Homo sapiens: one gene and its partners. The gene in region 1 interacts genetically with each later gene. Each region holds a gene or a part of one and is shown in the gene's direction. Other genes may lie near its edges.

Region 1 (2,629 bases):
AGACAAGAAGCACTGGTTCGGAGAATGGCTAAAGCACGAGCCTCATCTGTAAATGCAGCTCCCACTTCATTTCTTTAATGAAATATTAGTTGGAAGACTTCACGAAGACTGCTGATAACTATCTGTGATTGATAGGAAATTTTTTTTCTTGATTTCTCTGTGAGAAATGTAATGCTGACTTTTATAAAGCCTGGACTTCTACTTTATTTAATAAATCAATGTTTGCAATGGTAAATGAAACATTTCCTTGGACATGTATTTGAAAGTCATTAAATACAAAAGTTTTGGAAATTCAGGAAAGTTAGCAATTATGTACGGATATTATACAGAGGAAAGTAGTTATATTTTTAAATGCTATTATTGCAGAGGATCATCAAAAAAGAGGTAATCTACGTTATTTCCTATTCTAATGTCTTTTCCTAATAAAAAACTTCAACTTTCTAAGTTAGTAGAGACTGTTTTTGTAGTTTTACTTTCATTAACTGTTGCTTAAGGTTTTTATACACTTCCAGATTTTAATTAATACTTTCATATTTCTAGGAACATGGTTGATATGAAATAAAGGACTTTTTATTTGTAAGGAAATTATGTTCAGTTCTTAGAAGTGGATTTGAATTTTAATAATTCTAAAATGTGACACATTTTGGAAACTTTCCACCATATTTAGGAAAACTTTGATTTTAGAAGTCTAACATAGAGGAAAAGAAGTAGTGGATTGTCTACAAAAGTAATGTGGCATCATTAACATTTAGAACTGGCAGAAACTTCATATGTCATCTGGTCCAGCTTCCTTATTGTATCGGTGAGAAAAAGTAATACTGTTTTCAAAGTCATAGGCAAGTTAATGCTGTGCTACAATTAGAATGATTTATTTGGACACCTAAACAATTATACTATTTGTTTCAAAGTATCAGTACATAAAATAACTTGAGGGAGTATTATTTTCTAGTATAAAACAAAAGATGTAATTAAAAGCACAATAAGGACTGTTTGATAATAATGCTCATTGTTCCTTATTTTGCTTTAAAGAATTAGTCTTTCCAGGATATAAAAATGAGAATCTTTTTTCTTTTCAGTTTTTCTGTAACTGTAATTTTCCCCTCAATTAATTTACTTAGTTGACTCATCTTTTCTTCTCTATTACTGTTTTGTTTTTTTCTTTTTTTGCCATTTTGCCTATTTGGAATTTGCTAAACCAGTAATAGAAGTCCAACTAGAGGGCGTAAGGCAGGGAGGATGCTTTATTCCTCTTAAATGGTTTTAGGAGATCTAGAGAAAGTTAGAGATATGAAACACCTGTCATGGTGTGGCATTTATCACTATCAAGTGTCTCAAAGCTGTGATAATATGGTAGTTACTGCCCTATAGCTATACAGATACTCCTCAACTTACCGTGTAGTTACATCCCAATAAACCCATCATGAGTTGAAAATACCTTAAGTTAAAAATGCATTTACTACACTTAATCTACCAGACAACATAGCTTAGCTTAGCCTACCTTAAACATGCTCAAATCACTTATATTAGCCTAGAGTTGGGCACATCATCTGGCAATACGGCACACTGTAGAGTATCAGTTGAGCTGATGCCCAGCATCGTGAGAATGTTGTACCACATATCTCTAGCCTGGGAAAGAATCAAACTTTAAAGTATGGTTTCTATTGGACGCATATCACTTTTGCATCACGTTAGAGTTGAAAAATTGTAAGTCAACCATTTTAAGTTGGAGACTGTACATCAAAAATGGTATTTTCATATCTACAGTGGAGTACTGGAGTTTAGCTAACCTATATTATTTTTCCAGGAATATATAATAACCTAGATAAATGCAAGTAGTTTCTATGTACAAAAATAAAGAGCTGAGAATCTTTTACTAAAAGTGGCTTCACTGTGTTCTGACTATGCTTTGGATATCTCTGTCCTTGCTTAAGCTCCTCCCTGCTTACTGCTTGCTTTTTTAAGAGTACTTTTAGCCTATTCTGTTCATTCATTTAGACTCAGCCTAATAAGTCTGTTTGAACCTCGTACCTAACCATCTTCACTGGAATTGATTGCTTCTCTCTGATCATAATGGTACTAATTATTGTGTCTTTCATTGAGCAATACTATAATGCCTTTATGTGTTGTTTAGTTGTATAAATCTTATTTTATAATTTGTCATTTTGTGTCTCTGGTAATTCTGCCAAATTCTTATACAGCTCATAGTATTATTTACGTAATAGTTTTCTCTAAGTGACTCCCTTTTTTTAAAAAAAAAAAAAAAAAAAAAACTTTTATAGCACTTCTGGGTGGTGGCAGGTGTAATGGCCCTGTACATCTGAACCTCACATGACTGGTTTTTAGGGTCACTGCTCCTGTTCATACCACTCTCCTTTCCTATCCTGACTCTTCCTTTAGCCCTTGTTGGAAACATTAGGGGGTGAATGGCCCATAAATGAGCATGCAGAGGGCTGACTATATAGTTTGCCTGGCTTTTCTCTTTCCTAGTCTATAGGGAATCTGGGGAAGGGACAACTGGTAGCCTGGCAATTTCCCCCTAAAGTTCCGCTGCTGTTTCTGCATCTCAGACTGATGCTAATAATGCCATTATTTCCAAAAAGAGCCTGTTGAAAGCGGAGCTTATCTCTCA
Region 2 (3,500 bases), on another chromosome or scaffold:
ACATTGTGTGTGAGAGTGTGTGTCAGATGCCATGTGTGAGACACCAAGACACGGGTATGTGATACTCTGTGTATATGTGAGTCTGTGTGAGAGACACTGATACTCCAAGACATTGTGTGTGTGTGACACTGTGAGACACCAAGACAGTATATGTGCGAGACAGCCTATGTATGTGACAGTGTGTGTGTGAGACACCATGAGAGACTGTGTATTTACTGTGAGAGACTGTGTGAGAGACACGTGTGAGACACTGTGTATATGACACTATGTATACGTGAGACTGTGAGACACTATGTGTATGTGACACTGTATATGTGTGAGACCGTATGAGACAGTGTATATGACACTGTATATGTGTGAGACTGTGTGTGTGAAACACTATATGACACTGTATATGTGTGACACTGTATATGACACTATATGTGGAGACTATGTGTGAGACACTATGTATATGTGACACTATGTATGTGTGTGACACTGTGAGAGACACTGTGAGACACCAAGACAGTATATGTATGAGACACCCTGTGTGTGTGACACAGCGTGTGACTGTGTGAGACGTGTGTGAGGCACTGAGACTGACACTGTGTGTGAGGCTGTGTGAGAGTCAGTGTGTGTGATAACTGTGTGTGTATCACCGTGTGTGTGTGTGAGAGAGGGAAGGAGAGAGAGGGAGGCAGGTCAGAGGGAGTCAGGTGTCCTTGGCGAGAGTGGCAGCAGCCTGCCTGGAGGGACCCTGGGATGGCCATTTCAGCACCTAAGGGGTAGCCTGCCCGGGTGAGTCTCCAGTCCACTGTGACTCAGTCATTGTGCCTGTGATCCCCACCCTCCATCTGCTTGCTTCCCCCCCATTTGTCTTCCCCAGCCCCCTCCGCCCCTCCCCAGAAGGTGATGTGTGTGAGCATGGGCTCCACCACGGTCCGGGTAAGTTGGGTCCCGCCGCCTGCCGACAGCCGCAACGGCGTTATCACCCAGTACTCCGTGGCCTACGAGGCGGTGGACGGCGAGGACCGCGGGCGGCATGTGGTGGATGGCATCAGCCGTGAGCACTCCAGCTGGGACCTGGTGGGCCTGGAGAAGTGGACGGAGTACCGGGTGTGGGTGCGGGCACACACAGACGTGGGCCCCGGCCCCGAGAGCAGCCCGGTGCTGGTGCGCACCGATGAGGACGGTAGGCAGTGCCACCGGGGCGGGAGGGGAGGCGTTCTGCCTCAGACACCACCCACCAAGCTCCCCAGGGCCTTCCTTTCCTGAACACAGGCCCAGGTCAACTCATCTTTCTGGTTCAGGTGTAATGGCCTAAAGTGGGGGGATGTCACTTACGGGATAACTGAGGCCCAAATCCCAGCCTTTGGGGCTGTCTCCAAAGCAGCTGAAACCTTCACAGGCTAAGATGGGAGAAGCAGCCCTGTCTAAGATTTGAAAGGTCAAGATTGGGCAGATTGGTGTAAAAGATACTCAAAGTAGAATCAGCAAGACTCCACGTTGGCTGGACATTGGCATGATTGGGGCCTAGGAGGAGTCAGGACAGGTTGTGCTGACTAGGGGTGGTCAAAGACCTGGTGCCCCACCTCCACCTGTTCCCCCATGTCGACCCTCCCCACCAAGTGAGAGGCCTGGGCCAGAGGGGTGGGCAGGGCCAGTCCTGGGCTCTTACCCGTGGCGGGCAGAGGGAGCCTTCCGTGTGCCTCACCAGGGACAGATGATCTAAGGAAACTGTATCAGGGCCTTTCCTGGGGGAGTGGGGTGCTGAGGCAGGACCCTCAAGTTTGCTGTGCCCACCTGAGCTAGGGTTGATACCTCCAGGCCTGACTTCCTTCTCTACCTGACCCCCCAGTGCCCAGCGGGCCTCCGCGGAAGGTGGAGGTGGAGCCACTGAACTCCACTGCTGTGCATGTCTACTGGAAGCTGCCTGTCCCCAGCAAGCAGCATGGCCAGATCCGCGGCTACCAGGTCACCTACGTGCGGCTGGAGAATGGCGAGCCCCGTGGACTCCCCATCATCCAAGACGTCATGCTAGCCGAGGCCCAGGTGCAGCATTGGGTGGTGGTGGGGTGGCAGGGTGAGCACAGACCAGCATGCACAAGCTCCCTTTTGGGGCCCAGATATGTCCCTCTTCCCCTGCCTGCCCTCAGCAGTGCTGTGACTGCCTTTCCTTGGTTGTGAGACCCGAGATGCTTTGCAGCATCAGGGGTTAGGCTGGGGTTTTTTGGGTGTGGGTTTTTTGTTTGTTTGTTTGTTTTGAGATAGAGCTTCACTCTTGTCGCCTAGGCTGGAGTGCCTCCTGGGTTCAAGCAATTCTCCTTCCTCAGCCTCCCGAGTAGCTGGGATTACAGGCGTCTGCCACTGCGCCTAGCCAATTTTCGTATTTTTAGTAGAGACAGGGTTTCACCATATTGGCCAGGCTGGTCTCGAACTCCTGACCTCAGGTGATCCGCCTGCCTCAGTCTCCCAGAGTGCTGAGAATACAGGTGTTAGCCACTGTGCCCCACCAGGTCGGGGTTTTGAGATGTGCCTTTCCCCTAGACAGTGCTGGGCTGGCATCCACTCTTCCCACAGAAAGGGTAGAGAGAGTGCTCCAGGGCTGTCTTACCCCACTGGCGGCCATGGGTCCGTGGTTGCTGCAAAGCTCTGTGAGTAGCCAAGTAGAGTGTTGCCCTGCTCCTGGCCCTGCAGGGAACGATTCAGCCCCTGATGTTCACCCTCAAGAGCTAGGCCTGCTGGCCAGCCTCACACCTCCCTCTGTGCACATCTGTCTTCCTGGGAGGATGGTCCTGCCCTTGAGCTTGGGGTGAGGTCCCTGGGGTATTCTGAACACTGGTTGCTATTCAGATGAAGAACTTGGAATGCTGGGGGGTTATGAGAGTGGTATGGAATTATTCAGCAAGTAGGTGGCTGCTGCGCTTGGATGAGAAGCCATGTCTGTGGACCCCTAGGAAAGGGCCACAGTTGCTGTCATGAGCCCCCTCCCAAAAGACCCTGCTGGAGAGTCACAACACCTGGTGTGGTGCTCTCAAGGTCTCCCTATCCAGGAGCAGGGCCTCCCCATTGAGCCTCTCACCTCTGCCTGGGTGGAGAGCAGGGGTGCGTGTACCACTCAATGCTGTACACACTGTGCAGAGGGGTGGGGTCACCCACACAGACAGGAGCCTTATTCCTCCAGCTGGGCTCAGCCATCTGAAGCAAAATTCTTTCTGCCCAGAGGGTGCTCTCTTCCCCCTCTCAGCCTGCCCAGTGCTAAGGCATCCGGGGTGGAGGAGGCAGGCATGTGCACCCACCTGCATTCCTGGGGCAGGTTGAGGGCTCCTTGTGGAGCCTCAGTGAACACACCTACCCAGAAACATCCCAGGAATGGGTTCCCCTAGCCCCTCCTCTCTGAGGGGGCCAGTGGCCACAGCTGTGGCCAGTGGGGTTCCAGAGAAGCCACTTCAAGTGCCCCCTTCTGGTCCCAAGAGGTTCGGAAGGGAGCTGGGCCAGAGGCTCAGGGACGCTGCCCATTT
Region 3 (3,500 bases), on another chromosome or scaffold:
TGGCCCATTTGACTTCTAGTTTTATAAAATATAACTGACAGCTTCTGTTTCTGTAAAGCAAGATCATTTAAAAATTTAAGCGTGTTGTTTTTTTTAAGCTATATTTCCCTTTCTTTGGGCAATAGTATTTTTTGTTAGGAAAAAAAAGTTACAGTCTTGCAAAGGTGGTTGTGTATTTGAAATGAATAAAAGAATAAAGGGCTTTAATTTCTGGGTTGATTATTGAAGTTGTTTTAACTGTAATAGGAGAAAATAATGAATTTTTCTCCCAAATGTTACCACTTACTAGATTTTTGTTTGTTATTACCAAATTGGAACACTTTCTAGTTGTTTAAAAATCTATTCCAGTTAATGATTTTATTTGACATCAATTATAATAACGAAAACATTAAGAATTTTGCTAAATCAAATGACTGTTTTAGGCATTGGTAATTTTAGTTTGTTGCTGGAAGTCTTTTAGTACACCTTTCAGTTAAGTTTGTTAATGACTGATTTTATTAAGTAAATGATTTGAATGCTAAGAAAGATCTAATTGGAGGAAGGAAGCTAGTGTCATTGAGTGAGTGCCTGCTGTGTATACCAGGCTTTTCTTAATCCACCAGTAATTTTGTGAGAGATGTTATCCCCATTTTACAGATGAAGAAGCTTTCAGATAGGTTAACCAACTTGTTCAACATTACACCATTTAGTAAATTGTGGAGCTCAACTTAAACCCAGGTTTAACTTACCCTAAAGCTTACATTTTTTGTGCTACTCTGTGTTGATGTATTTTCTTCCTTCAAAATGGAAGAGTCTAAAATTTATCAAGAGTTTTATTATGATTATGATTCTAGGTAACATATGCAATTAAAATTCAACTAGTTGTCAGCTTGCTGATGTGGATAGGGTAATGCACAGAATATAACGTACTTCAAAATGAGTAGAACAGGATAGTCTATATTTAAAAAAAGTTTTCCTCCCTCATGCAGACGTGCACTGCTGCCTTTGCCACCAAAGACAGACTGCGGACACACATGGTGCGCCATGAAGGCAAGGTATCATGTAACATCTGTGGGAAGCTCCTGAGTGCAGCATACATCACCAGCCACTTAAAGACTCATGGGCAGAGCCAAAGTATCAACTGTAATACATGTAAACAAGGCATCAGTAAAAGTAGGTGGTGCTTCAGATTTTCTTTCTTTTATATTTCAGATGGGTGAAATATGCATGTTTTCATATTGTATCAAAGGTATTAATATTCACCTTACGTGTTTCCTCCTATTGCCAACATGTGCAAACAGGCAACAATGGACAGAGTATATTAATGTCAGAACTATGCTTTACTTTCATGTATGCAAACAGCATTGATAAGCTAATAATAACCTTTAAGGTGAAAGCAGTATTAATAAGCTTGCTTTTCAAACCCAAATCTGTAGAGAAATGAGATATCATATCCACTTGAAGGTTTAAATGCTTTGCTTGCCTTAAATTCAGAGTTGAAGATAGAATACTTGCATTTACCCAGGCTTTTTCTTTTAAGATTGCCCTAACCACTAGAAGAAGGCATTTTCCTAATCCTTTATTCTATTATATATGTACTTTATGCAGTAGAAACATCAAATTCTCAAAAAAATAGGTGGCCACAAGAGAATGGGGAAGAAAGCTTAATGTGTGTTAATCTATCCATTTTTACTTCTTTGTAAGTACACTGGGTTTGTAAGTACACTTCTTTGTAAGTACACTGGTATGTTGTACTTTATAAGCATTCACTTCTGTTTTTTTTGTTTTTTTTTTTTTTTTTTTTTGAGACGGAGTCTTCACACTGTTGCCCAGGCTGAAGTGCAATGGCACGATCTCGGCTCACTGCAACCTCCGCCTCCTGGGTTCAAGCGATTCTCCTGCCTCAGCCTCCCAAGTAACTGGGATTACAGGTGCACACTGCCATGCCCGATTACCTTTGCTACTTTTTTTGTATTTTCATAGAGACGGCGTTTCACCGTGTTGCCCAGGCTGGTCTCGAACTCCTGAGCCCAGACAGTCCACCTGCCTCGGCCTCCCAAAGTGCTAGGATTACAGGCATGAGCCACTGCACCCGGCCTATAAACATTCACTTTTAGTGTACATTATTGTGATCAAATAAAAAATTTTGTTGAATGTTGATTAGTCCTATATTAATAATATCAAACTTCCATTTTTAAAGACACTTGCTTTTTTTTTTTTTGATGGTTTTTTTTTTATAGCAAAGAGTCCTTTTCTCTTTTATATTGATTTTTGCTAGTTCTCTAGACTTTTTAGTGCTTGTTTATTTTGACCAATATAGACACAGCAGCAAAAAAGATGCACTTACTAAGAGCTATCAGGTTAAATGGTTAAGATCACAGAAGCATGAGAAGTCAATTTTGAAAAAAAACGGCAACAGTTTTACAGGTAGATACAGTGTTTTTGGTTTGTCTTTGTAATAGCATGCATGAGTGAAGAGACCAGTAACCAAAAGCAGCAGCAGCAGCAGCAGCAGCAGCAGCAGCAGCAGCAACAACAACAACAACAACATGTGACAAGCTGGCCAGGGAAGCAAGTAGAAACACTGAGACTGTGGGAAGAAGCTGTTAAAGCAAGGAAGAAAGGTAAGGCACAGCTTCCAGTGTTGAAAATATGGCTAGAGAAGTGTTTTCATTTAGTATGCCAAGTGATCAAAGTAGAGAAGCCACAGTTTTAGGAAATCTAGCTTAATGGAAACATGGAAATAGTGCATGCTGGGAAATATCTGGTAAAGTATAGTTATTGGCAATAAAGTGTCCAGATAAGTTATTACTAGGAATTAAAAGTTCTCAGTACTTCCTATCATGTTCTTTCTTTTGATGTACTTTTTGCTACAAACCTGGATCCAAATTTGGTCCTTTGCTATGCTCAGAGTTGCATTTTTATATTCAATTTGATGTCAACCTCCATGCATTATGGGCTTTTTTTTTCCTTTCTAAAATATTCCCACTTTTAGAGGTGGATATCCTTGTGTGTACATAAGTTCATTTTCTTACAACTGTGCTATTTTTGCTCTGTAGTGTTCTTTTTCATTGTATTATTTATTACATGTTTCAGATTCTGTAGTGTTGATGTCTTTTCTCTTGGTCACACCCTTAATCTCCTTCAGTCTATCACTGGCTGGCCTTAACATATCTAGTCTTCTGCTGCTGAGGACTTTACTGTAATTGTTTAAAAAATTTTAAATGGTTTGCTTTTCTCTCGTGTATATTTTCTAACGAATCAGTTGGAGTATCAGTTTTCAACGTACTTTTCAACTTACTAGTACAGCTTTGGCTTCTGGACTATTGTGCAGCCATTTCAAATGAATCATTTTGTCAATGTATCATGAGCCAAAGGACAGATTTGTAAATTCCTTCTTCCTCCTCCACCTCTACAATGTCTTACTATGTTAAATGTTAAGGAATCCTCTATCTGTGGGCTCCTCTGTATGTAATTCCTTTTCTGTGTAGTTTCTTCCATCTTTTGCTTTCATGTAGTGT
Region 4 (3,500 bases), on another chromosome or scaffold:
TGTGTGGATGAACATGGGGGTGGCGGTCTCGGGAGCTGCACCAAGGCGAATGCAGACTTTCAAGGAAAAGGTGGGGGACAGCAGATGAGACTGACATTTGGTCAGGCGAAGACTTCGCGGAGCGGGGAGAGTCGCACGCCTCTTGGTACTTGACTAATGCTTAGCTCCATTTCAGACTTATGGGAGAACAGCTGGGAAATGTTGCCAGAGGAATAAACATTGCCATTGTCAACTGTAAGTTACTAAACATTTTCTTTAAACTTCTCTAAAAGCTCTCTGGTCAGATTTTCAAAGGTACCTTGGGTTTTCGAGACTTTTGCGCGTGATTTAGTCTAGGTTTGTATTTTAATGCATTTTAAGATTATATACTCAATTATTTTTACAAGTCTCACTTCACAGATTATTTGTGGTTCTAACAACAAATAAACAACTGAAAACCAAATATAGACTTTATTTTAAAAAAAGAAAAAAACAGAGGGATAGGCCAAAGTTAGGGTTAACACCAGAAGGGCCGCCAAGGGGGTGCAGCCTGTGGTCCTGGACTGAGCCTCTCATTTGCTCCCAGAGTCCCAGTGTCTGCTCAGGGGCTGACACCATAGACCATCTCATCCTTCTGTGTGATAAAAGCCACTGCAACCTCGTGGGAAACAAAACTTGGCCTTTCTCTTAGGTCTGGAATAAAGCTCTCTCACAGTTGCCTTTGAGGGGCCCAGAGGAGAAGGAAAGGGTTTCCCACAACGTCCCTGTGAGTGAGTGGGCCGCATAGCCCCGAGACGTGAGGGCTGTGGAAGTGAAGATAAAATGCTCCCAATCTGACAGCCCTGAAGGAGGCTGTAAAGTAGGAAGTGGGCAGGCTGAGGGGGCTCTGGTGTTTCTGTGGGATGAGGCGGGTGGGCCTGGCTGAGGGGGCTCTGGTGTTTCTGTGGGAAGAGGCGGGTGGGCCTGGCTGAGGGGGCTCTGGTGTTTCTGTGGGATGAGGCGGGTGGGCCTGGCTGAGGGGGCTCTGGTGTTTCTGTGGGATGAGGCGGGTGGGCCTGGCTGAGGGGGCTCTGGTGTTTCTGTGGGATGAGGCGGGTGGGCCTGAGTGAGGGGTCTCTGGTGTTTCTGTGAGATGAGTTGGGTGGGGGAGGTATTAGTGTTCCATCAGGTGTAACCCAAAGCAAACTGGAAGAAAGTTCTAGCACAGCTTCCAGCACTTTCCTTTGACCTGGTTTTGGGGACTCTCCTCAAGGGGCCCGCCCTGTCTCTGCAGGCTGGGTCATTACATCAGTGGTGTTTGCTGGAGATAGACAGGGAAGAAATATTTCCTTCCCCAGGCCCTGGTGCCACAAGTGCGCCCTAGTTCTGTGAACTTTCTTTTAAAATACCATTTCTTTTATTTTCAGATGTAACTGGGAATGTGACAGCAACACGATGTTTTGATATGTATGAAGGTGGTAAGAAAATTTTTTCTGTTAAAATTCAAATGAATTTTAAACAGAAAATTAAGATTAAAAAGCACAAAGAAAAATGTCAACCATTTTTATTTTGTCTACTAGAAAAACGCCAGCAGCTCTCCTGAGTAATCTAGAGTGGTCTTATGTAGATCCTCTTAAACTCTAATTGAATTCATAGAACATTTGAAGGCATCATCTAGAAATGTCTTTTCTTCTGTTAGTTTTCCTCAGTCTTTCTCTTTTTAGCTCTCATGATATAATAAGAAAGAGAAAAAGCCTTTTTTTTAAAAAAAAAAAAAAGCCAAATACATTATATGTAAAATAAAGCCACCAGCATCCAGCCCTAAATATCATCATCCTTTGAAAGCTGTCACGATTACTCCTGGTGACTCACAGTGCTCTGCTGGGCTCAGGGCAAGCATTCCCGGAACCCACGGGTGCCCAGTCTTTCTCGATGGTCTCTCCTTTCTAGGCACTGACTCTTGACTGCAGTTGTTGGCCAGGATATACTATCCCCTCTTATTTTTATATATCAATGAGACTTTCAAAAACAAGTTTTTATAAAGATAGTGAAGACGAAGAATAGAAAACGCCTGCACCCACCCAATAAGAAGGACACAGTTGTACTCTGCAGTTAACCTAAGCAGAACAGTAAATAATGAGCCGCAGCGGTGAGTAACAGGGTTTGAGGTTTACCTTTATTTTATAAGGCATAGATAAGTCTCTTGGCACAGACTTGCCCACGGTCCACATGTCTCGTATTTGAGTTCTGTGGGAGTCTCTCTCCTGCACACGTCGGTGTGTTTGCAAGGCCACTCTGCTCAGTGGTCGTGGTGTGGGTGTGGGTGTGGCCCTTTATCAGTGACTACAGAGAACACTCCACCTGTGCCACACAGGCTGCTGCTTGTTAAGAGTTTGGTGATCTCATTTCTAAGGAGGGTTTTTTTTTTCTACCAGGGGCTCCACTTCTCTTGTTTGTTGGTCAAAAAAGCTCCTTATCTTGACCCCCTTTCACTACTGCCCTGAACACCTATTGCAAGTGTTAGGTTCTTTTCCTTCTACGCTGTGCCACTCACCTCAGATAGTCCCTATGGTACCCCAGTGAATGTTCACACGTCCAGAGCTAGCACACCATCTGCAGGGTTGAGCAGCGAGCGCTGGGACCCCCAAGGATTCAGAATGGACACAGAATGCAGGTGCAGGAGGAAGCCCAGCACCCAAGGCAGAGCCTCAGTGAACAGCAAAGACCCTAAAACTGACTTGCATCCCCCAATAGATAACTCTGGACCGATGACAAAGTTTATTCAGAGTGCTGCTCCAAAATCCCTGCTCTTCATGGTGACCTATGACGACGGAAGCACAAGGTGAGTGGGTGTAGGTCTGTCACAGCGGTGGGCAAGAGAAGCCAGCTGGGGCAGAGGCTGCCAGGGTCTCTCAGTGACATCCTCTGGGGACAAGCAGAAAGTCCAGGAGCAAAGTACTTCTCTAAGGAAAAAGAATGAAAGATCATGACAAAATAGATGGCATTTCTTTAAAAAAAAATTAAATCACTAACCACAGAAGTACTAGAACCTAAATCAAAGGAGTATTTCAAGGAATCAAGACAAAGCCACTGTTGACCATAATTAGGACAGACAAACTAACCTCCGGACAGAAAGCCTAAACCCAGGGTGGCATTAATAGTTACAGCAATGTGAAAGGAAATTGAGATAATTTCCCTATAGAAAGAGGAAAAGAGGCTGGGCGCAGTGGCTCACACCTGTAATCCTAGCACTTGGGAGACCGAGGCAGGCGGATCACGAGGTCAAGGGTTCGAGACCATCCTGGCCAACATGGTGAAACCTTGTCTCTACTAAAAATTAAAAAATTAGCCAGGCATGGTGGCATGCACCTGTAGTCCCAGCTACTCAGGAGGCTGAGGCAGGAGAATCGCTTGAACCCAGGAGGCGGAAGTTGCAGTGAGCCAAGATTGCACCACTGCACTCCAGCCCGGTGACAGAGCGAGACTGTCTCAAAAAAAAAAAAAAAAAAAAGAGGAAAAGAATAAAGAAATACACACATACA

Evidence for each region.
Region 2: changes in ETAA1 (region 1) and PTPRF are lethal when combined (synthetic lethality), as found in Homo sapiens cells (one large-scale study listed by BioGRID).
Region 3: changes in ETAA1 (region 1) and VEZF1 are lethal when combined (synthetic lethality), as found in Homo sapiens cells (one large-scale study listed by BioGRID).
Region 4: changes in ETAA1 (region 1) and FAM3B are lethal when combined (synthetic lethality), as found in Homo sapiens cells (one large-scale study listed by BioGRID).

Annotation. Positions count from the first base shown.
Region 1 is NC_000002.12:67,409,961-67,412,589, forward strand, and holds the end of ETAA1 (ewing's tumor-associated antigen 1), read left to right. Parts: coding exon 1-78; 3' UTR 79-2,129; downstream 2,130-2,629. UniProt on the Homo sapiens protein: Replication stress response protein that accumulates at DNA damage sites and promotes replication fork progression and integrity.
Region 2 is NC_000001.11:43,596,883-43,600,382, forward strand, and holds part of PTPRF (receptor-type tyrosine-protein phosphatase F isoform 1 precursor), read left to right. Parts: intron 1-865; coding exon 866-1,171; intron 1,172-1,837; coding exon 1,838-2,031; intron 2,032-3,500. UniProt on the Homo sapiens protein: Possible cell adhesion receptor. It possesses an intrinsic protein tyrosine phosphatase activity (PTPase) and dephosphorylates EPHA2 regulating its activity.
Region 3 is NC_000017.11:57,978,255-57,981,754, reverse strand, and holds part of VEZF1 (vascular endothelial zinc finger 1), read left to right. Parts: intron 1-950; coding exon of another isoform or gene 951-968; coding exon 969-1,152; intron 1,153-2,441; coding exon 2,442-2,603; intron 2,604-3,500. UniProt on the Homo sapiens protein: Possible transcription factor. Specifically binds to the CT/GC-rich region of the interleukin-3 promoter and mediates tax transactivation of IL-3.
Region 4 is NC_000021.9:41,344,301-41,347,800, forward strand, and holds part of FAM3B (protein FAM3B isoform a precursor), read left to right. Parts: intron 1-175; coding exon 176-234; intron 235-1,385; coding exon 1,386-1,436; intron 1,437-1,908; exon of another isoform or gene 1,909-2,107; intron 2,108-2,712; coding exon 2,713-2,800; intron 2,801-3,500. UniProt on the Homo sapiens protein: Induces apoptosis of alpha and beta cells in a dose- and time-dependent manner.